Linked DNA regions of Homo sapiens: regions 1 and 2 are each linked to region 3. Evidence: fine-mapped expression QTL. A gene starts in region 3. Each other region holds a variant in brackets. All regions are shown on one strand. Distances are from middle to middle.

Region 1 (8,188 bases), 83 kb after region 3:
GGAAAAAAATGAAAGGTTGCATCTGTACTGAGCATGTACATTTTTTGTCATTATTCCCTAAACAATACAGTATAACAACTATTTACATAGCTTTTACATTGCATTAGATATTATAAGTAATCTAGAGAGGATTCAAAGTATATAGGAGAATGTGTGTAGATTACATGCTAATACTACACTATTTTATGTAAATGACTTGAGCATTCATGGATTTTGGTATTCACAGAGAGTCCTGGAACCAGTCCCCCAGAAACACCAAGTGATGACTGTATGTGGAATTGCTGAGTGAACCCCATCAGTTTTAGATTCTTACCAGTTTAGAATCAGTTTGAGATTCTCACCATTTGTGTATGAGAATTCCTAACTTGGTAGCGTCATAATATATCTTTATTCTAATTGCTAATTTATTTGATTTGTTGTAAGTTAGATAGTAGAAATTATTTGTTCTTAATTTCAGACTCTGTATACATTTCTTATTCTTCCTTTAATAATGTATATGCAATACATTTAATGCCTTAATATTCCTTTTGGAGGACAGACCTCTTATCCTCTTTGGAGAGCAACACAGTTATTACAGATTTAAAAATCTTTATTACTTTTTCTGTTTATAAAAGTAATATGTTTTTATTTAGAAATTCAAATAATAAAGAAATGAACAAAACAAGCAGGGAAAGCCTCTCTATAATTGGGCTGTGTGTTAAAGGATAGAGTAAAGGGTAAAGGATCTCTGTTACGTACATTACCTAATTTTTAAAAGATGGTAAATATAGACCAGGTGCTGTGGCTCGTGCCTGTAATTCCAACACTTTGGGAGGCTAAGGTGGGAGAATTCCTCGAGCCCAAGAGTTTGAGACCAGCCTGGGCAACATCGGGAGACCCCGTCTATAAAAATAAAAAAATTAGCCAGGTGAGGTGGTGCATGCCTGTGGTCTCAGCTCCTTGGGAAGCTGAAGTGGGAGGATCACTTGGACCCAGGGAGTCGAGGCTGCAGTGAGTGTGATCTTCCCACTGCACATTCCAGCCTGGGAATCAGAGCAAGACCCTGTCTCAAAAAGAAAAAAAAAAGGTACATATCTATATTTGGTAGGGCTATTTTGATACATCAGTTTGGTATGTCCCATGAGTCATAATGTTTGGTGTTAGGTTATGAGCATTTAGACCCTTCAAGGAATGGTGGGAATTTTTCCCTTAGAACACAGGACGATGTCTGTGCAGGCAGTAATGGATTTATGAGTCTGCTCTAATGTACATTCTCACCATGCTATGCTCCAAGTGTTTTATGGAAACATTTGGCAAATGCTTCAGGAGGTTTAGCAATGATTTTGCTAGATAGACTAGAATGAAAGCCCAAATAAAAAAGAATCTCTTCTATTATGTTTTTTAGAACCCCCAGTTCTATAAATGAGGACCTTTGATAGGAAAGCTATAGGGATGGCTAAACTTCTACTTTTCTGAAACTTTGGATCCCTAGTCCCTTGTCTGTGTTGCTTTGTCTTTAAAATTTGCTTTCCCCTATTGGAATTTGCTGGGGAGAAAAAAATGTTTAAAAATTAGTACCAAGTAACATTTGAAATGGAGCAGTTTTATGAGTTAGGATAGTATTAGGCATTTGTTTAATGTTTATTGAATGCATAGATGAGCTGGGAGGTGCTTATTAGTGTATAGCGTTTCAGAAGTGGAAATAAGAAGAACTTTATCCAACATAGGTGGGGCTGTGAGAGATGCAGTGAGATGAATAAGCAGATGATTCACCTTTTTTCTAAGGTTTGAGTCTATATATGTAGATATCAAAGCCAAAGGTCAATACCTGTATTAAGAATATTTCTTGTCCTCATCATGACTTTTGTAAGTAGAGCAACTCTACTTAGAAAAAAAATTATTTCTTCAACCAAGACAGATGCTAACATTTACCTGACACAGATATAAACCATGGGTTATCCTAGGCAAACCAGAACATATAGTTGCTCTAATTAAAAGGGACTTTATTTTTTTTAGCTCTCATTGGAGATTGTAGATCCACCTTAACAGATTTCTCTCCTGCCCTATGTTATACTTTTTAAATAACACAGAATTTGCAGAAATCATTAGTAAATTTGAGTGCAAACTTGTATGTTCTTCTAATATATATTTTAGACCGCAAACCAAGGGCCAAAATTTAAAGACCGTCGGCTACAGATATCATGGCACAAGCCCAAGGTACCATCTATATCCACTGAGACTGAAGAAGAAGAAGTCAAGGAGGAGGTAAATTTAGTGGTTGGAAATAAGAGTTGAATTAGATCACTTCTCAATTATGTATTTTTTATGATATTAAATAGTATAAATTAAAAAATGCTGGGTTTTTCTTTCATGCATGCAAATTAAGACCCGTTTAGATGTTTATTAGAGAATTAAAACAGGTCTAGAGATATAAGAAGCTGTGTTAGGGGTTATTTTCTTCTGATATAGGAAAGACTGTTCTTTTTTGTTTACATTTATATTGGATTTATTTGAGCTCTAGAAATTTTTATTCTGATGAATAAAGTCAGAGATTACATAAATGAATTAAACTTTAATTGGTTGGTTTCACTTTTTGTTTATTCAAGTTCCATAGTAATAGATTTGAGTTTCTTATTTTCCTTCTGTGTACAATTGGTTAAAATCAGAGTGTGCAGAAGTTGAACATAGAGGAGAGAATTGGAAAACTAAAGACCTAAATAATAAAAGTACTGAATAATCAGCTTCTTAAAATATATGAGAATTTATTTTGCTTTTTTACTCCTGTTGTTTATCATTAGTTTATTTAGTGAACACTTAGGCTATATTGCGAGGTTTTCCTGATTTATATGACAATCTTGGTTTTAAAAGATACCTAGCTAGCATTTATAGTTTGATCAAGTGTCTTCTCACTATATAGGTAATTTTACACAGCAAAAGCAGAAATGTTCCCTAGATTAAAAGAAAAACAGAAGTCATGGTATTTGGGTAGTGTTTGCAGATACATCTACTTTGTCTAAGATTTTAGATTTTTATATAAGATTTGGAATATCAGTGTCATGGGGAAGCTAGTATATTCACCTCTCACAAACAATTGGATGGATATAAAAACAAAGATTTAGGTGTTTGGTCATTTATTTTCCTAATTTTTTATAGAATAAAATTAATTTTAATTTATCAGAAATGTATCTCATAGTCTTTTTTAAATTTTCTGTACTAAATGTCCACATTATTTTCCTGATGATATTAGAGTAGAAATCTCCTATTAAAAGTAGCAAAATTAGCAGGGGAGAAGAATTCATATTCATTTACAAAAATATTTTGGGCTTTTTTTTTTTTTTGCCCTGAAAGATACTCTTGCATGCATCCCTTATGAAATCTAGCCTGGGCTTTGTATACTAGCCTGTTTGTCCTTTGGCCTAAAAAGTATTTTACTTACCATTCTTGTGCCACTAAGCAGATTTTAACCTCTCTTTCTTCAGGAAACAGAAACCTCAGATTTGTTTTTGCCTGATGATGACGATGAAGATGAAGATGAATATGAGTCTCGCTCATGGCGAAGATGAAATCTGATGCTAGCTGTATAATTTTTAGGAATATTGTTTAGAAGAACAACTTTTAAAAATTATTTAAAAGAAGTCAATGAGCCAAAAAAAATTTTTTTATTTTTCTTTTCAACACAGTAGGTTCAAGAACAGCAAGTTTGCTATTTAAACACATCTCATAACTGTACATGATATTAAAGCACCAAAGGCCTAGTGACTTTTACACAGTTGTGAAGATCCACAGCAATGACATGGATAATCTCTAGAGCCTTATTTTCCACAC[C/T]ACCTTTTTTTTGTTGCTGTTGGTGTTGGATTATGATGTAAATGACAGGGTGTTCAGAAATTTTATTTTGGATTATAATCTACTGATAAAATTTAATTAAATGTCAAAATCACCTGTAATCTTTTAACTCTCAGTTGTTATGGATGGGTCATCAGACAGTAGGAAATATTTGTAATTAAAATACCCTTTTGCTTTCAAGAGTGGTCTTGGAAGAAAAATATGTTTATTTTAATTTTAATTTTTTTTTTTTTTTACTTTGGAGGAGCCCAATTTGTATTCAGTCTAAATTTGTTTTTCATGGTTTTTATGTGTGGTAGTACTAGTTCAGTGAAAATCACAACAAACTGTGTGTTCTTAAATGCTACAGCAATGGTAGCTAGCTCTATAGTATTTCCATTCTCTTGTCATATGAACTCCTGGACTTTTCCTGCTACTGATTCTTAGTTTGCTTTGATATTTAGTGAGCGCTGGTTCGGCTGGTCTTTTTAAAAATTTTTATAACTCAGAATGTAAAAGGCTTTCACCTATTGCCCCTTTCTCGTCCCCCTTTTCTTCCTCTTGCCTTTCTATTAATAGGCCTGACTTAGTCATCATTGATATAAGTGGTTCATTTGGGCAACCGCAGGCAGTCTCCAATAAAAGGTTCAAACCAGCACCTGGATAAATAAGTGATGTTTTGATGAGAATGATGGAAGGATTTTGGGGAGAAGAGAATCACCAGCTTTATTTTTTCCCTCTTTTGAAGCTTCAGTTCAGTATAGTTACACAGAAGGGTTTAAAAATGTCTGAAATTCTTTTCCTAAATTTAAACCATGATGGTGAGGTGACTGGGGGGTGGGGGGTGGAGGTGGGAGGGGGTTGAGGGCTGAGTATGCTAGTAATAAATGGGAGTCATATATGACTTTGTTCAGATGACCTTATTTTTTCATAATTTTGTAGCTTGTTGCTATCCATGAACATACGCATCCCTCAGTAGACAGTTTCCTTTACTGTGTGCATTTTTACTGTACACTGTATAGAGTAGAGTATCTGTTAAGTAAAATATATATGTAAATTTATGTCTTCGTGTTCTGAATGTTAGATGGAAAAGCAGAGGAGCAACACTACACTGTACTGACCCCTGGGAAAATAAAATGATTAATGTACCTAGGCTGTCACTTTTTCAAGGATATACACATCTGTGTTTTTATATATGTGTGGTATGAAAATTTGAAACCTCCTGTTGTCTCCAAAAGGGTCTTGGTGACCACTATATCAAGGATTTTGTTTGCTGAGGTAAAGACAATTTCTCAATATAGAAACTATTCACTAAGAACTTAAAACCATCAGGATTCTAGATTTACTTAGCTATAAGAAGTTAAATCCCACGTTCTGATAATCTTTATTCTTCTACATGTTTTCCTGGAATGATGTGTCAAACCAGGGTCATTTTTAAGTTCATATAATTTTCTTTCATAATAATGAGGACTTCCTTTTTCTAGGTTATTGTTATATTTCTAGTAACACTGAAGGTAAAATAAGCTTATAAAAGAAGGAAAACATCAGAATGGTGTATCTAGAATACACAATCTTGCTCCTTACTCCTCCATCATCTCTAATGAAATTTTTCTTGATGTCTGTGGCTCAGTCAGTATATATTTTGAAAGATTCATTGTGGTGAATATTTTGAGTCCTGACAGTTTAAACGTGATAGAGGGAACAAAGGATTTATATATTTTTTGTACAAAGTTTTTTCTTAAACTGTATAATTTTGTAAATAATTTGTTTGGGTTTTTTTTTTGTGTACTAAAACTACCAGCGTATAGATTTCAATAAGAATTGTTGTATTTTTGTATTTGGAAACTGAAAATTACAGTAAATAAATGGAACTCTAAGAAAAATTTCAGTAGACAGTTCAACAGAATGAGATTCCTTTTCATATGATTTTTTTGACCTCAAAATGGACATCTTATTTCACTCTCAGTAAAAAGTTGAAAATTTGACTTTTTAGTATTGGGGGCAGAAGATAGAAGTGTGTTAAAGTGAAAAACAGTTTTTTCAGTAAGGTTTGAGGCCCTTTCTATAAGTTTTCAGTACACCTTAAACAGGACTAAAAATACTTTAAAAGTGTGCTTTCAAAGAATTTTAAAACATGTTTGACTCAAAGATGAATTTGAAGTGAGTTAATTATAATACTGGAAAACTTCAGGTTAGCATAAAATAGTTTATATATATCCCCTGCCCCCTTTGGGATTTACTTCCACCATCAAATCTTCAACTGTTAGAATTTCACTTAAAAGTGAATAACTGCCATACATGTTTTCTTGGCATCTTCATTTACAGAAATAACATACAGCATCTAAAGCAAGTTCTGTCCCTCTTAATGTGTATGACATCTTTTTAAGTAGCTGATCAGCAATAATAGCCACCAGTTGACTAGGTCAGCCTGATATACTAGTGGATCACTGTCCAAGATAAAAAGGTAACCCCAAGTATTGCAAAATTTCCCTCAATTTCTTTATGTAACATTGAAGAAATGTTGTTACCAGCTAAGATGATAAATTGGAAAACAGTCTTGTTAAGGTGAAAGGGGTCCTTGGTGATGGATCATTATTTCAAAAAAGAAAAAAATCATGTGAAAAGGAATAGTGGTTCCTCTTGATGTATAGTATGCCTGTATTATAGTTTTTACAAAATTGTGAACTTGTGTAATAGTATAATAGGAGATATTGTTGAATTTCTAACTGTTTATACATTTAAATTCATATATGTAATGTTTGTTTTATCAATTACAATCTGAATTTCTAAGAAGCATGTTGACTTTTGCAATAAAGATGCAATATGGAATGGTTCACAATTGGAAAAAAAAAAGAAAAAAGATGAAAGTATTACAAATTTAAAAGAATTTGGAAAATTTATGAACCATTCCAAAAATTATAACAATCACCAAAAGAGCTGTAATTCTGGCTTGTTCTGGAAAGAAAGAAAATGTGTGTGTATGCTTGCTTGTGAGAGTGAGTGAGTAGTGGCTATGTATGTGTGTTTTATGTTGTGTTCATAAACATGAGAGAACATCACTCAATATGAAGTTGGGTTCGAAGTCACTGGCTATTAAATATTAAGTAGGATAACTTTCTCAACAGAGTAGCCTGGAGAATGAAAGAGAAGGTATTAAAATGCTACTTGTAAGTAACCTTTGATAGCCACATTATTTTGTTCCTGGATGGTTCTTGGTATCCCAGATAAAAAAGCACAAAACAGTTTCTTGAAAGCAATTATTTTAATGTTGTCTTGAGGATATTCATTATGCCTGCCATCAGTAGGAGGGACATTTTCCTTAAGTAGAATAGGGAGAAGGGAAAAAACACCTAGAAGAGATGATTTAAACATAAATCAGTTCTGAATGTGACAAAGATTTGTAAGGACAAACGGGAAGATAGTGATGTTATGCACTAAGGACTGGGTGGTGATGAGAAAGAGAAGGGAAGTGTATCACCTGGTTTTCCCATTTTAAAAAATGCTATTATAAAATTCCCCCTCCAATGATTATGCATTGTTTAAGAAGGAACATTCTTTGAATTTCAGCTTATACAAGAAAATACTCAAAGAATGAGAGTAAAGTTATTTTCATTCCTTTCAAATAAAATTTATTTTATGTATTATGTAAATAGCAAATAAGCTGTTTGTCACCATTTGCTTTGAGTAGATCATAATTAATCCTAAATATATTTACAATAAACATTAGTTCTGGGACTTTTTTGGAGGGAGCAGGCAAATTCTGAACATAGTTATATCTATTGAACAAATCAAATGTTTTACTAAGATGGAGCTCTCATTAACAGAAATTAATGATTTTATGTGATATTTTTACTGATTTTGAAGTAAATTGTGCTAAAGCCAAGGATAAATTTTGAATAAGCCCCAGCATACAGTCAAATCTGGATCTAGATATGTTACCGTAAACACAGAATTGTGTTTATCAACATGTGGGGATATTGGATGATAGGGTTGCTTTAGACTAAATGGACCAACATTACCTTGCTGTGCAGAGCTGCTCATTTTATGTTCATTTTTAGTCTGAAAGACCTAACTTGAGAGACCAACCAAAATTGACCCAGAAAAGAAAAAAGAAAAGGCAATCTACTGCTACTGCTTGTATTATGAATCACCTTCATTTATGCTAAATTGGTTTTATTGCCAAGATCTCTCCTTTCAACAGGATCATCTACCATTTGGCCTCTTCCCTGTTCTCCAGTTGACCTTAGGTTAACTAAACCATTTCAACATTCTAAGATAGGCAATTTGATATGGGGTGAAATCAAGGGCAGAATAGTGTTGGATGATTGTGAGTTATTTGTGTTTCCATCTACTCTTAGGCTTCTGCAAGCATTTCTTTTTGTGGTGG
Region 2 (8,188 bases), 64 kb before region 3:
TGCAATCTCAGCCCACTGCAACCTCCGCCTCCCGGGTTCAAGCGATTCTCCTGCCTCAGCCTCCCAAAGTAGCCTGGATTACAGGCACCTGCCACCACACCCAGCTAATTTTTTTTTTTTTTTTTGTATTTTTAGTTGAGACAGGATTTCACCATGTTGGCCAGGCTGGTCTTGAACTCCTGACCTCAGGTGATACACCCACCTCGGCCTCCCAAAGTGCTGGGATTACAGGCGTGAGCCACCGCGCTTGGCCCATACTCAACATCTCTACAAAACAAGTCTTGAATCTTAGCAATGATATTGAGTTCATTAAAGGAAGACTCAAACTAACTTCAGCTTGATTTGTTCCTGAACACATCATGTCAGCAATTCTTATATATTAAATATTATGTTGCTCATCCACAAAGGAAACATTAAGATTTTAAAATTTTGTTAAAAGCAAAACAGAAAGTAAAATTAAAACACCAATTTTAACGTGTCTTCTATAATCTGAGAACTGGACCCTACAGAACAGCAATAAGAAAAATGTTTACTCACCATCTGCTGAAAATTTGTCAATAGCTTGGGTCAAAGTGAGGAAGTTGCCTGTGGATTTTGACATCTGAAATAGAGAGTCAGTGATCAATCATTAATAACAGTAATATAAATAAACCAAATGAGCCAAATAAAATTAACTAGGTTGGCCATGACCAGATAAAAACAAAAAAGAATTCAAAATACGGAAAGGAAAAGATATTACACTAATTTTAGAGCGGTGAAAACTGAATTTCATCCGATAAAGTGCCTTGTTTGGGTTACTCAGCTATCAGTGACACAGCTAGGAGAGGACCTCCAGACTCACACTCAGTCCACTGTGATTTAGCCTATACTGTCTGGGTTAGACATGTGTAATGATTCCACTATAACTCTAGAACACCACCTGGTTACCTAAGAAAGAGCTTTACGGCAATTAGAATCATTCAGAAATGGAATGGACCAGCTCATGAGGTTGGAGTTATGATTTTAGGAACCCTCCTATCATTAGGGTCACAAAAATCGGTTGTTCAAGTTGTGCTCTGCCTTAGGGCAATGCATCGGAAGAGGCACCACTCACAGCCTAGCAATCTTTATCGCTTTAAAATTGTATGTCATTAGTTTAACTATGCTGATATCAGAAGGAAATGATGATTATATCAGTTTTCTATTATACTACATGGCAATACATATCTTGTTCTAATAAAATCAGGATAGTACAACAACTTTCAGACAGCCAAAGAAAATGTCATGTTCTAACAAGAATAATAAATGTATTGTTCTTCTTTGACTTACAAAGAAGAAATGAGTTCAATAATCAAAGGTTCCTTATTGAGCTAACAAAATCTATTAAAATCGCCTGTGCTTCTAAACAGCAGTTTTTCAGTCTAATATACAGATTACCTATTTTTTTTTTTTTTTTGAGATGGAGTCTTGCTCTGTTACCCAGGCTGGAGTGCAGTGGCGCAATCTTGGCTCAGTGCAACCTCCGCCTCCCTCGGTTCAAGGGATTCTCTTACCTCAACCTCCTGAGTAGCTGGGATTACAGGCGCGCACCATCATGCCCAGCTAATTTTTGTACTGTTAGTAGAGACGGGGTTTCACCATGTTGGTCAGGCTGGTCTCTAACTCCTGACCTCGTGATCTGCCCGCCCTGGCATCCCAAAGTGCTGCAATTAACGGGCGTGAGCCACCGCACCCGGCCACAGATTATCTTAAAGGAACATCTTTTATTACCTTTCAATATTAGGGCACAGGCTAAGTCTGATGTTACATAATGCAATTTACATCAGCTGCCATTTGTTTAAAGCTACAACTATTTTCTCCTTTTTCCCTTTTTTTGAGATGCAGTTTCACTCTTGTCGCGCAAGGCCTGAGTGCAATGGCACGTTCTCAAATCACTGTAACCTCTGCCTCTCGGGTTCAAGCGATTCTCCTGCCTCAGCCTGCAGCTGGGATTACAGGCGCCCACAACCAGGCCCAGCTAATTTTTTGTACTTTTAGTAGAGATGGAGTTTCACCACATCGGCCAGGCTGGTCTTGAACTCCTGACCTCAGGTGATCCACCCGCCTTGGCCTCCCAAAGTGCTGGGATTATAGGCGTGAGTCACCGCGCCCAGTCCCCTACAACTATTTTCATTATGACATATAGACACTTATGACAACTAATACAGTCATTGCTATTCTGTTGGTTACAGCAAAATTCACTGGTTGTAACAAATCTAATTTGTTACCATTTTTATTAATGAGGAATAAATAATTTTGTACTTTTTTTTTTAAGTCAAGTAGGGGTGCCCTTCTCTAATTTGCACAGAAGTATCATAGGGGCAAGTGAGGGGTCTGTCAAGTTTGCATAACCTCCTACTGAGGATATTGATTAATAAGATAAAGTACTATGCAGTCTGTTTTAAAAAAATCACCCATATTATTAATAGTAACAGTAGTGATAGTAACAGCAGAAGCATAGAGAGGACTACTATACTGCTTGGGAAGGAGCATTACGTGACATCTAAAAATCTTACAGACTCCAAAATTCTATCATTCTACTAATTTAGTGGCCAGTCACAGTATAAAACAAAAAGCACCGAGTCATTTTCTCAACTTACTAAGAAAAATAGCTCTTCCCATCATCTTGGATCCTATGGAGGCCTGCTGGGAGCAGGACTTCTAAAAGGAAATATGGCTGGAAGGCTGTGGTCCAAGGCCATTTTTGCTGGCTATGAGCAATGTCTCCAGAACACACAGCTCTTCTTAAAATTGAAGGTGTTAGCTGGGCATGGTGGCTCACATCTGCAATCCCAGCACTCTGGGAGGCTGAGGTGGGCGGATCATGAGGTCAGTTTGAGACCATCCTGGCCAACATAGTGAAACCCCGTCTCTACTAAAAATACAAAAAAATGAGCCGAGCATCATGGCAGGCACCTGTAGTCCTAGCTACTCAGGAAGCTGAGGCAGAATTGCTTGAATCCGGAAGGTGGAGGTTGCAGCGAGCCGAGATTACGTCATTGCATACCAGCCCAGGCAACAGGGCGAGACTCTATCTCAAAAAAAAAAAAAAAAAAGTGAAACTGTTTATGCTCAAGATGAAACAGAATTCTATGTGGGCAAGAGATGTGCTTATGTATACAAAGCAAAGAACGACCATGACTCCTGGCAGCAAACCAAACAAAACCAGAGTAATCTGGGGAAAGGTAACTCGGGCCCCATGGGAACAGTAGCATGGTTCATGCCAAATTCCTAAACAATCTTCCTGCTAAAGGTATTAGACACAGAATCTGAGTGATGCTATACCCCTCAAGGATTTAAACTAATGAAAAGTCAATAAATAAAAGTGGATTTGTTAAAAAGGAAAAAAAAAAAAAAAGAAATGGCTGGGTGCAGTGGCCCATGCCTGTAATCCCAGCACTTTGGGAAGCCGAGGCGGGTGGATCACTTGAGGTCAGGAGTTCCAGATCAGCCTGGCCAACATACTGAAACCCTGTCTCTACTAAAAACACAAAAAAGTAGCCGAGTGTGGTGACAGGCACCTGTAATCCTAGCTACTCAGGAGGCTGAGGCAGGAGAATCGCTTGAACCCAAGAGGTGGAAGTTTCAGCAAGCCCAAGATCGCATCACTGCATACCACCCTGGGCAACAGTATGAGACTCTGTCTCAAAAAAAAAAAAAAAGAAAGAAAAAGAAAAAAAAATTTGAAGGTGTTTATGCTCAAGATGAAACAGAATTCTATTTGGGCAAGAGATGTGCTATGTATACAAAGCAAAGAACCAGACGGTGACTCCTGGAGGCAAACCAAACAAAACCAGAGTAATCTGGGGAAAGGTAACTCAGGCCCACGGGAACAGTAGCATGGTTCATGCCAAATTCCTAAACAATCTTCCTGCTAAGGCTATTGGACACAGAATCGGAGTGATGCTGTACCCCTCAAGGATTTAAACTAACGAAAAGTCAATAAAAGTGGATTTGTGAAAAAAAAAAAAAAAAAAATGGCCGAGTGCAGTGGCTCATGCCTGTAATCGCAGCACTTTGGGAAGCTGAGGCAGGCGATCACTTGAGGTCAGGAGTTCGAGACCAGCCTGGCCAACATGGCGAAACCCCATCTCTACGGAAAAAAACAAAAATTAGCCGGGCATGGTGGCATGCGCCTGTAATCCCAGCTACTCAGGAGGCTGAGGCAAGAGAATCGCTTGAATCTGGGAGGTGGAGGTTGCAGTGAGCCAAGATCGTGTCACTGCACTCCAGCCTGGGCGAAAGAGTGAGATTCCATCACAACAAAAAAAAAAAAAAAGAAAAAGAAAAAAAAAGGAAAAGAAAACTCTTCTGGGTCACAATGCTAAGCTCTTTATGATTCCTGTCCCTGTCTCTGTCTCTCTTTTTCTCTCTTTACTTCAGTTGCAATTTGTGTCACCTTTGGCCACTCTAAATACAAATGTTACAAATAGGTAACTCTTCCCTATCTCTCTCTTCAATTAATACTATCTACTCCCCTTGCTCAATTTTAAAGATAAAAATTAATTTATAGGCCAGGCGCGGTGGCTCACACCTGTAATCCCAGCACTTTGGGAGGCTGAGGGCAGATCATGAGATCAGGAGACTGAGACCATCCTGGCGAACACGGTGAAATCCCGTCTCTACTAAAAATACAAAAAAAAATTAGCCAGGCGTGATGGCGGGTGCCTGTAGTCCCAGATACTCGAGAGGCTGAGGCAGGAGAATGGCGTGAACCCAGGGGGCGGAGCTTGCAGTGAGCCCATATGACGTCACTGCACTCCAGTGTGGGAGACAGCGAGACTCCGTCTCAAAAAAAAAAAAAAAAAAAAAAAAATTAATTTATGCCTCGTCCTAAATATGCTAATTAGAAGGTTTTTAACTCTGATTAATTCATATTATTTCTTATTTATTTACTAATTTTTTGGTAGAGATGGG[G/A]TCTCACTATATCGTCCAGGCTGGTCTTGAACTCCTGGCCTCAAGTGATCCTCCCACCTTGGCCTCCCAAAGCTCTGGAATTACAGGCATGAGGCACCACACCTGGACACATTATTTCTTACATACATTTAAAAAAAAGTGCAACAACCTAAATCTGAAAAGCCTTCCACAGAATTTTAAACTTTTAAGATGCAATAAGCCTTACCTTCTCAGAGTTCAGGAGGAGATGTCCATTTGCTCTCACAGCTGTAGGCCATTTGTCACTTCACAGATAAATGTTTAAAGATAGAAAATAAAAAAACAAAGATGATAGTTCTGGCTTAAAATTTTGAGGTAAAAGCTAATAGACTCATAAAGGCTTGCTAAGATAAAAGTGCAAGGATATACACTATAGTCCTTTTTGTAATGGGAAGTGAAAACAAATCAAAGGACTGGCTACATAAACTAGGATACAGGTATACAATGACGTAACTACTTAGGTGGGGCTACACGTATGGATATAAAAAGATCTTAAAAATATATGTGAAGGCTGGGCGCAGTGGCTCACGCCCGTAATCCCAGCACTTTGGGAGGCCAAGGCGGGTGGATCATGAGGCCAGGAGTTCAAGACCAGCCTGGCCAGGAGGGTGAAGCCCCATCTCTACTAAAAATACAAATATTAGCCGGGTGTGGTGGCTGGCGCCTGTGATCCCAGCTGCTGGGGAGGCTGAGGCAGACAGTTGCTTGAACCTGGGAGGTGGAGGTTGCGGTAAGCCAAGATCGCGCCACTGCACTCCAGCCTAGGCGACAAAGCAAGACTCCCTCTCAAAAAAATGTATATATACACACACACACATATAAATATACACACATATATATACACACACACACATATATATACACACACACATATATATACACATATATACACACATATACATGTGAAAACAAGACAGAACAGTGTAAACAATGTGGTATCTTTATATACATTAACAAATAGAGATATCAGATGCTGGTATATAAAATCACAAGAAACCAATAGCATCATGATGAATTTTGGGAAATAGAGTAGTGTGCAGGCAAGGATGAAAGTTCACTTTTAACTTTTTGCCTTTATGTATTCTTTAAATTTTCAAACTATGTACATGTCATTCATTCATTCTAGCAATGAGATCATATGGGGGGTTGAGAGCAAGAGTTGTGGAGCCAATCTCTCTGGGTTTGCATACTTGTACTATCTTCATTAGCTGGGTAGCTTTGGATTATGATTTCTTCCTCTTTATTCCTCAGTACACTTCCCTGCCTACAGACATGGATATTAAAGACCTTCCTCGAAAAGCTATAGTAAAAAGAGTTATTAAAAGTGATTTAAAAAGTACCTGGCATAAGCTCTTGATGTCAATACTTATTTGTAATTTTTAAAAACCTAACAAATGTGAAAAAAATTGGTGCAAAGGAATGAAGATTCAACTTATTGGTAAAGAATACTTCTGAGATACCAATTTGCCTACAAATGCATTGTAAACAATAGAGAAAAATACTAGGGCCAGGCACGGTGGCTCATACCTGTAATCCGAGTACTTTGGGAGGCCAAGACAGGAGGATCGCTTGAGTCCAGGAGTTTGAGACCAGCCTGGGCAACAAAGTGAGACCTCGTCTCTACAAAAAATAAACAAAATTAGCCAGGCAAGGTGACATGTGGCTAGTCCCAGCTACTCGGAAGTGTGAGGATCACGTGAGTCTGCGAAGTTGAGACTGCAGTGAGCCAAGATCATGCCATTGCACTCCAGCCTGAATGACAGAGTGAGACTCTGTAGAAAAATAAATAAATAAATTAGGTAAGTAATAACAGTGGATGACAAGTAGTGTAAGAACCACATTAAATTTATCTTATTCCTCTGGGCTGGGCACGGTGGCTCATGCCTGTAATCTCAGCACTTTGGGAGGCCAAGGCGGGTGGATCACCTGAGGTCAGGAGTTTGAGACCAGCCTGGCTAACACGGTTAAACCCCGTCTCTACTAAAAATACTAAATTAGCCAGGCGTAGTGGTGCACACCTGTAATCCCAGCTACTCGGGAGGCTGAGGCAGGAGAATCGCTTGAACCCAGGAGGCGGAGGTTGCAGTGAGCTGAGATCACACCATTGCATTCCAGCCTGGGCAACAAGAGCAAACCTCTGTCTCAAAAAAAATAAAAAATATTCGGGAGGCTGAGACAGGAGAATTGCTTGAACCTTAGAGGCAGAGGATGCAGCAAGCTGAGTTCGTGCCGCTGCACTCCAGCCTGGACTCTGTCTCAAAAAAAAAATTATTTTATTCCTCTACTCCAAAATCTTCGTTTTATTGTTGAAGGAAAAAATGTAATTTTATTCTAAATACAAGAAGGCATAAGAAATTGTCTTGGTTTTATGAAATAAAATTTGAACAGACTGAGAGGTTTGTTTCCTCAGCTACTTGAGGAACTAGAGGGAAAAGTAGACATGTCTGGGTAAAGAGGGAAAAGGACAGAAGGATTACTCTGAAGAAACAGACTCTAGTCAGAATGTTACCACAACTAATGCTGGAACCTTGGGGCGCTCTGCTCTAAAGAGAAGGTTCTTTCCAATTCTAATGGTCTAGAATTATTCCTGCATTTAACAGGTCAAATGAATTACTAGCAGACCAGCAATGCACCTGAGATATGACATGCTTTGGTGCCTGGGGTAGGTATGTGGATTTCTGGATGTAAGAGATAGGAGGTGGCCTTTCTGCTTTAGTACATATTTAAGATAAGAAAAAGAATGTAACTGGCAAATCTATACCATCCCCTCCACAATAATTTATTAGATATTTGAAGCCACAAGACACCCCTATTGACAATCAATAAATCTAGTCCACACCTATTTTATCATTCACCTTTGTTCCGGCCACATAGCCACATGATTATAAAGGTAATATGAAAGATGATTTGGAACAAGATCCTTGCCAGAGACGCGAAGATCAACAGGATACCAGAATTCAAACTCCTGCTTTAACTGATCTAATTTTTCCTTTGCAATCTGAGTCTTAGGAAATGGAGCCTCCTTGAAGAAAACATAATCCCAAACTTCCTTGGTCATCTGTTGCGGTCTGTATTAAAAATAAAACAAACTATTTTATATATATATATATGTAATTTCTTTGGAAGAATCAGTACCTGAATCGAAACATGGATTAGGAATCTCTTTCTTAATGTAGTTACAGGAACAAATAAGGACAACAGCTTCCATAAGAATGAAGAATAGATGATGACAGTA
Region 3 (8,188 bases):
CAATCCTGAAGACAAAACACAATCAAAACAATAGCTACCAAGAAAATGGCAATGGGCTAGTCAAAGCAAAAGCAGACTGGTCAGCAGCAGAGGTCATGGCAACAGTTTTTTTGGGATGCTCAAGGCATTTTGCTCGAGGGCTAAAGAACGATAACATATGCTTATTATGAGAGTGTTTTGAGAAAATTAGCTGAAGCTTCAGCAGAACAACATCTGTGAAAGTTTCACCAGAGATTCCTTCTCCATCTTGGCAATGCTCCTGCTCATTAATCTAATAGCCGGGTGCGGTGGCTCACGGCTGTATTCCCAGCACTTTGGGAGGCCGAGGAGGGTGGATCATGAGGTCAGGAGATGGAGATCATCCCAGCTAAAATGGTGAAACCCCGTCTCTACTAAAAATACAAAAAATTAGCTGGGCATGGTGGTGGGTGCCTGTAGTCCCAGCTACTTGGGAGGCTGAGGCAGGAGAATGGCGTGAACCTGGGAGGCGGAGTTTGCAGTGAGCCAACGTTGCACCACTGCACTCCAACCTGGGCGACAGAGCAAGACTGTCTCAAAAAAAAAAAAAAAAAATCTGGTCAAACAAGGGCAATTTTGCAAAAGTTTTGATGGGAAATCATTAGGCAGCTACCCTGCAGTCCTAATTTGGCTCCTTCTGCCTTCTTTTTGTTTCCTAATGTTTAAAAAATATGTAAAGGGTCCCATTTTTCTTCAGTTCATAATGTAAAAAAGACTGCATTGACATGGCTAAATTCCCAGGACTCTCAGTTCTTTAGGGATGAACTAAATGCCCAGTATCATTTGTGTGGTATCACTTGTATGTTCTCAATGTGCCTGGAACTTGATAAAGCTTATGTTGAGAAATAAAGTTTGTGGTTTTTATTTTTCTTTTAATTGCACTTTTCCATGAACTTTTTGAGGTCCCTTCTGTGCATATGTAAGTTTGGTTCTATTTTTCTTTTTTTACCCAGCCATCAACTTGACTTTATAGGTAAGTTTAGTTCTATTCAGTTTACCACCCTGTAGTTCCTGTATCCACCATCACAGTCAAAAATCAAAACAGTTCCAACACCAAAAGTGTCCCTCATGTTGTACTTTTATAACCACACCCACTCTCCCTTGGTTGGGAAGGGGTCTCAGTTGTCTCAGTTCCTCTCAACGTGGGCCTCTCCACAGGGCTGCTAGAATGTCTTGAAACATGATGACTAGCTTTCCCCTGAACAAGAGATCCAAGGTGGGAGCTAGGGTTTTTTTTTGTTTGTTTGTTGTTGTTGTTTTTGTTGTTGTTCTTGTTGTTGTTTTTTGGCAGAGTCTCACTCTGTCACCCAGGCTGGAGTGCAGTGGCTTGATCTCAGTTTACTGCAACCTCTGCTTCGCAGGTTAAAGCAATTCTCGTGCCTCAGTCTCTCAAGTAGCTGAGATTACAGGCATGTGCCACCACACCCAGCTAACTTCTGTAGCTGTTCGAAGTGAAGGGAAAATGTGGATAAACTTTAAAAAAGGAGGAGGAAGAGGAGAGAGAAAAGAAGAGGCAAGAGTTGCAAGTGAGAAAGCTCTTGGCTTGCTGTCAGAACCTCTGGATGCTACTTCTACTCCATAGAGGTGTAATTCTGGGTAAACCACTTGCCTCTCTGGACCTTTTCTTTCATTTGCAAAGTTATGAGGAGGGGGTTAGTGAGGGAGGTTCATTACATTATTTTTAAGTGCACCTCTGCTTTTACTACTTTATGTAAGGGGTTTACAAACTGTGGCCAGCAAGCTAAACCCTGCTGGCATCTTCTTTGTACACCTGTGAGGTTACAATGGCCTTTACATTTTTATTTGTATTAATTAATTAATTAGAGACGGAGTCTTGCTCTGTTGCCCAGGTTGGAGGGCAGTGATACCATCTCAGCTCACTGCAACCTCCACCTCCCCAGTTCAATCGATTCTCCTGCCTCAGTGTCTGGAGTAGCTGGGATTACAGGCGTGTGCCACCACAGCCAGCTAATTTTTTTTTTATTTTGAGACAGAGTCTTGCTCTGTCGCTGAGGCTGGAGTGCAGTGGCATGATCTCGGCTCACTGTAGCCTCCGCCTCCTGGGCTCAAGTGATTCTCCTGCCTCAGTCTCCTGAGTAGCTGGGACTACAAACACGCGCCACCACGCCCAGCTAATTTTTGTATTTTTAGTAGAGACGAGGTTTCACCATGTTGGCCAGGCTGGTCTCGATCTCCTGACCTCATGATCCGCCCACCTCGGCCTCCCAAAGCCCTGGGAATACAGGCATGAGCCACTGCGCCTGGCCCACGCCCGTCCCATGCCCGGTTAATTTTTGTATCTTTAGTAGAGACGGGGTTTCACCATGTTGGCCAAGCTTGTCTGGAACTCCTGACCTCAGGTGATCCACCCGTCTGGGCCTCCCAAAGTGCTGGGATTACAGGCATGAGTCACCGTGCCAAGCCCCCCCTTTTTTTTTTGAGATGGAGTTTCTTTGGCTCTTGTCACGATCTTGGCTCACTGCAACCTCTGCCTCCTGGGTTCAAGCGATTCCCCTGCCTCAGTCTCCCGAGTACCTGGGATTGCAGGCGTGTGCCACCATGCCTGGCAAATTTTGTATTTTTAGTAGAGACTGGTTTCACCATGTTGGTCAGGCTGGTCTGGAACTCCTGACCTCAGGTGATCCACCCGCCTTGGCCTCCCAAAATGCTGGGATTACAGGTGTGAGGCACCGCGCCCAGCCTGGCCTACATTTTTAAATGGAGAAAAAAATGAAAAGATAATATTTCATGGTATGTGAAAATTATATAAATTTAAAATTTTATATAATTTTAATAAATGTTTGTAATACAGCCACAATCATTCCATTTACATATTGTCCCTGGTTAATTTTAAGCCAAGACATTGTATGACGAGTAGTTGCCATAGATACCTCAAGGCTCACAAAACCAAAATATTTAGTATCTGATCCTTTGCAGAAGTTTGCCTATACCTGTTCTATGTATATATAGGATGTCTGTTTATTTGAGGTTGATCCATTTCTTTTATATGAGGTGCGTGCTCATTAGGTATTTTTCAAAATGTTATTACAATGCATAACCCCATAAACTGTTCATCATCTTAAGAGGAGAAGCTCTGTTTTGCTCAGCATTGGACTCCTAGTGCCTTACTCAGTGCTGGCAATTGCAGGGACTCAGTATATGTTATTGGGTAAACATTTTAACATCAGTGCTAAATCAGTGATTTCAAAACTCCAGAAAGAATTTCTCACCTACTAGAAAGTAAGTTGACTATTTCAGTAGTTTCTAATTTGTCTTAAAAATTTTTTTGTAATCCTTCTTTGCTGATTAAAATTCTCCCTTCCCGTCCCCCAACCACTGAATTTTAGATATACAATGAAAAGATAATTAAAAACAAACTATTGGAGTCATTTTTCTTCCTAAATAAAGCAACATTTATTAATAGTACTAGCAAAATTGAAATGGCCTCAGCCTTTTACATCCGTGCGCCACGTTTTAAAAATGACGATTACTGGATTCCAAGGCATGGTTGTCAGAAACATTCTGCGTAATTAAAGCAGAGCAGCAGAAAATACAAACGTGAGTGCCAATCAACATGAGTGTGTAAAGAAAAAAAGTAAAATTTTGCATTCTGTGCAATGTGTCGAACGTGAACGTATTGCACGTTGTGTTGCAGATTTACTACAGCTGAGTCATTTCGGGACACGAGTGTGTGTTTCCAAGAAAAACGAGAGGAAGGAACCAGGCTGAGGGGCTCGCCGGGTTCCCCCAGGCACTCCCAGCAGCAGACACCGGTATTCCGCGGCGGGCGGCGGCGTGGTCAAAAAAAGGCGCCGCTGCCCCTTTAAGAGGCAAAGCACCTTTTCCAAGATACCATCTTGCACCAGGAGTTCACTTAAGCTCTCCACCTACCTTGCTATATCTCTCCTCCCTGACTGGGTACCGCCTGCCGGCGGGGCGAGCGAGCCTTTTCATTGGTCTTGCCCTCAGGGCCCCCTCTCTCTTACTGGTTCTCAGGCCTGCCACTCGGCACTGTCTCCCGCCCACCTCAGCCTTCGGGCTAGGTTGAGTGAGGGCTCTTGGGTTAGTTCCTGTTAGGCCCCGGCCGGGGGAGTAGGTTGAAGTCTCCTAAGATGCCCGGTGGGCTGGGGCACCGGGAGCTGTGAAGGGAACGTGAGGGGGCGGCGTAGTGGAGACCCACGGCAGGCCTGAAGAAGAGCGGCGGCCGAGCCCGCCTTCCCTGCACCATGCTCATAGAGGATGTGGATGCCCTCAAGTCCTGGCTGGCCAAGTTACTGGAGCCGATGTGAGTGAGCCGGGCTGGGCCGGGGCCGGCGAACGTGGGCGTTGGGGGCTCGCGGGGGCGTGGGGGAGGGGAGGTGGCGTGGGGGGCGGCGCTGAGGGGCCGCGGCCGGGAGGTCCCGGCGACGCCTTCCCTGTAGTACTATCACCATTGTGGTGGGGGTGAGGGTGGGAGAGGAGCGCTGGGGACGGAGAGGCGCCGTGAATATGGGGACTGGGGGGGCAGGCAAGGACAGCGAAGGCTTTTCAAACGCAAATATCGGGGTGCTGGAAGGGGTAGCAGGGGCCGTGAGGGAATTTAAAACATTGCTGTTTGAGAACTGAGAGAGAGGTAACGGGGCTCTTGAGGGATTTTTAAAATGTGAATATTGAGATGTCGAAGGGAATAGCAGAATATCAAGGGTTTGATAAACATTATTATTCCGGGACTGAAAGGTCTAGAAGCAAAATATCGAGGGCATTTTCGAAATATGAGGGCAGAAGCGGATAGCAGGGACATTGAAACTGTATAGCGATTATTGGTAAGTTCTGAGGGATCAAGAATATTGAAGGATTTGAAAAATACTATGGAGTAGATGAAAAGGATGTGTGGGCATTGAAGGGTTTTAGAAATTATTGGGGAGGTGATAAGTGTGATAGCAAGGATATTAAGGGATTTTAAAGTATTATTGAGGGCTTGATAGTGCTAGGGGAACTGATGACTTTTAGATACATAGAGGTTGGAAAAAAGAGGTTTCTGTAAGTTTAGTTGAAGGTTGAAAGGGCTACACTGGTATGCAGCATTAATTGGTGGAGGAGTATACCTAACAGTATGTAGGGATTTTTAGATACAGGTGGTGTTGGAGGAATAAAAGGAGCGGTAGAAAGAATAAGAGATTTGTAAGTATTCTTGTGCCATTGAGAGGACAGTTTTGTAAATGTTTTTGTAAGATTGAGAGGACACCTGAAGATAATTGGGGTGTAGTATGAGGGACCGAAAAGAATGAGAGACCTGTCTTTTAAAAATATTTTGGGTGGTGTTAGTAGAAATGTTATTGGGAGGCTTGAAAGAGGTAACAGATGTATCAACATTTTGTTTTATAACCTTTTTTTTTTGAAACAATGTCTCGCTGTGTCTCCCAGGCTGGAGTGCAGTGGCTGGATTTCGGCTCACTGCAACCTCCGCCTCCCGGGTTCAAGCGATTCTCCTGCCTCAGCCTCCCGAGTAGCTGGAACTACCGGCGCGCGCCACCACGCCCAGCTAATTTTTGTATTTTTAGTAGAGATGGGGTTTCGCCTTGTTGGCGAGGCTGGTCTCGAACTCCTGACTTCAGGTGATCCGCTCGCCTTGGCCTCCCAAAGTGCTGGGATTACAGGCGTGCGCCACTGGACCCGGCCATGTTTGATAACCATTTTAAAGGGTAGAGTTGTGGAGTGCTTATTTGGGGGAATGGGGTATGGCTAGTTACTGGAAGGGAAAGAATCATGTTTTGCCTCCTCCTTGCTTCTGCTTTATTATTCTCTTATTGAAGGTTAGAGCTTTCTGCTTGAAAGAAAGGGGTAGAAGAAGAGATGGGCAGGCTTTGATTCATTAGGTCAGATTGCATTAGTGGAAAATTTGAGTGTTTTTCGGAGGTGAAAATAGGGAGTAGTTTGGGAGGTGTGGAGGCATGGTAAAGGAACTTCTGGGGGACAGTGTCAAGCTACTTCCCTGTTGATCTCTTTCAGTGAAAATGACTGAACACACTTGAAGGTTTTGTAGAAGAATATAGGTCTCTTGAATAGGGGTTTTTTTAACTCCTACAATAAAGTTTTGGGCACAAAGATGGAAATGGTTTGTGGTGAAGGTGGGAAATAAGATGGATGTAATGAAATTGACCATATATGGGAAAAGGTTGAAAAAAGAAAAATATCTGTATGTTTAAAGTATTCTTCATGTGGCTGGGCACGGTGGTTCACGCCTGTAATCCCGACACTTTGGGGGGCCTAGGCGGGCGGATCATGAGGTCAGGAGTTCAAGACCAGCCTGGCCAATATGGTGAAACCCCGTCTCTACTGAAAGTATAAAAATTAACCGGCTGTGGTGGGGCGTGCTTGTAGTCCCAACTACTCGGGAGGCTGAGGCAGAAGAATCGCTTGAATCCCAGGAAGTGTAGGTTTCAGTGAGCCTAGATCAGGCCACTGCTCTCCAGCCTGGGCAACAGAGCCAGACTCCGTCTCAACAAAATAAAAATAAAAAAAGTGTTATTCATGTTATTTAAGATTAAAAAAGAAAAAATACATCTCTTTATTTTGTATTTCTGCTGCTCTGATGCCTTTAGAAAAAACAACCTACTTTCCAGACAAGTTTAGTTTTGTTGGTAGCTATCCTTTTAAGAAGAATTAAACATACATTTTATGTCTTGGATAGAAGGTAACAACTTTTAGCCTTATAGTTACTTGCTTTTTCTTTTTTTTAAAGCTCCCTAAGATGTTTTACTCTGAGTAGTGCTTTTCGTTTTTTGTTTTTTTTTTTTTCCCCTTAATGTTGAAGGTTAGTCTGGGTGGGAGCTTCTTCTTGCTTAGGCTTTTTTTTTTTTCCTTCTTTTTTTTAAAGCTACTTAGACTCATAAGTATGATCATTCTGTAATTTTCATGAGTAAAAATTATCTTTCAAAATGATTACTTGAGTTTAGTTTCTCCTTTTGAGTTATATATTCAACTTAAAGTTCACATGCTTATTTTTTTTAATTTTGTTGCTCATTTAGGGTAAAAAAAAAAAGGCTAAAATACTTTATTTGTTTGTTTATTTATTTATTGAGATGGAGTTTCGCTCTTGTTGTCCAGGCTGGAATGTGGTGGTGCAATCTCAGGTCACTGAAACCTCTGCCTCCTGGGTTCAAGCGATTCTCCTGCCCCAGCATCACGAGTAGCTGGGATTACAGGCACTTGCCACCATGCCCGGCTAATTTTTTGTATTTTTAGTAGAGACGGGGGTGTCACTGTGTTGGCCAGGTTGGTCTCCAGTTCTTGACCTCAGGTGATCCACCCACCTCGGCCTCCCAAAGTGCTGGGATTACAGGCATAAGCCTTTGTGCCTGGTCTAGAATACTTATTTTTAACTCACCTAAGTAACAGTTTTGAATGGAGATATTAATAATAAAAAAGTAAATGCAGATACCACATATATTTTTATTCTTAGTATGTCATCATGGGAGATTATTTTTTGTTTGTTTAGATATCCTAAAATGTAATAAATGATATGCTAAAGTGGGTTGTGTTTGTAAATTTACTTTTTTGCATATTCCAGATTCAAGAAAATTTTCATGGCAGATTGGCATGTTGCTACAACATAGCATTTCAGAGCAGTTGCTAGGCTTTGAGATAGTATAGTTGCACCGGCTAGGTTGGAATCAAACTATGACTGTGCACATGATTTTCTTTCTTTTTCTTTCTTTTTTTGAGGTGGAATCTCTCACTGTTGCCCAGGCTGGAGTGCAGTGGCACTCACTGCAACCTCTGCCTCCTGGGTTCAAGCGATTCTCCTGCTTTAGCCTCCCGAGTAGCTGGGATTACAGGCGCCCGCCACCATGCCCGGCTAATTTTTTGTATTTTTTAGTAGAGAGGGGGTTTCACTTTGTTGGCCAGGCTGGTCTTGAACTCCTGACCTTGTGATCCACCTGCTTGGCCTTCCAAAGTGCTGGGATTACAGGCATGAGCCACTGCGCCCAGCCTGTGTGCACATGATTTTCTATTACATTTTCTTATTTAGCTTAGTTTACAGTAAATTAAATTTATGAAAGCTTCCAATTCCCGGGGGATTTTTAAAATGTTACATCTTGTCCCTAGTGAAACATATGCATGTAACGGGAGATATTTCTTTTTTTTTTTTTTTTTTGAGACAGGGTCTCTGTCGCCCAGGCTGGAGTGC

What was found.
Region 1: its variant is fine-mapped to the expression of RBM27 in whole blood (TOPMed, PIP above 0.99).
Region 2: its variant is fine-mapped to the expression of RBM27 in whole blood (TOPMed, PIP above 0.99).

What each region holds. Positions count from the first base shown.
Region 1 is chr5:146,282,489-146,290,676 of GRCh38, forward strand. The region is part of intron 18 of RBM27-POU4F3 (RBM27-POU4F3 readthrough); the gene reads left to right. It overlaps RBM27 (RNA binding motif protein 27), which reads left to right. Exons shown (of 21, transcript NM_018989.2): 20 at 2,134-2,244; 21 at 3,459-6,735. The coding sequence ends at 3,542. Among named protein-coding and RNA genes, the nearest start is that of POU4F3, 52 kb to the right of the region's middle. The variant C/T (reference allele first, on the strand shown) is at 3,805.
Region 2 is chr5:146,135,064-146,143,251 of GRCh38, forward strand. LARS1 (leucyl-tRNA synthetase 1) reads right to left here. Exons shown (of 32, transcript NM_020117.11): 20 at 7,809-8,021; 21 at 5,141-5,198; 22 at 538-601. It also overlaps the pseudogene RPL35AP16 and the pseudogene RPL35AP17. Among named protein-coding and RNA genes, the nearest start is that of PLAC8L1, 34 kb to the left of the region's middle. The variant G/A (reference allele first, on the strand shown) is at 4,936.
Region 3 is chr5:146,199,522-146,207,709 of GRCh38, forward strand. RBM27 (RNA binding motif protein 27) reads left to right here and starts at 4,084. Exons shown (of 21, transcript NM_018989.2): 1 at 4,084-4,303. The coding sequence starts at 4,245. RBM27-POU4F3 (RBM27-POU4F3 readthrough) reads left to right here and starts at 4,084. Exons shown (of 20, transcript NM_001414499.1): 1 at 4,084-4,303. The coding sequence starts at 4,245. RefSeq lists enhancers at 3,520-3,669, 4,140-4,299.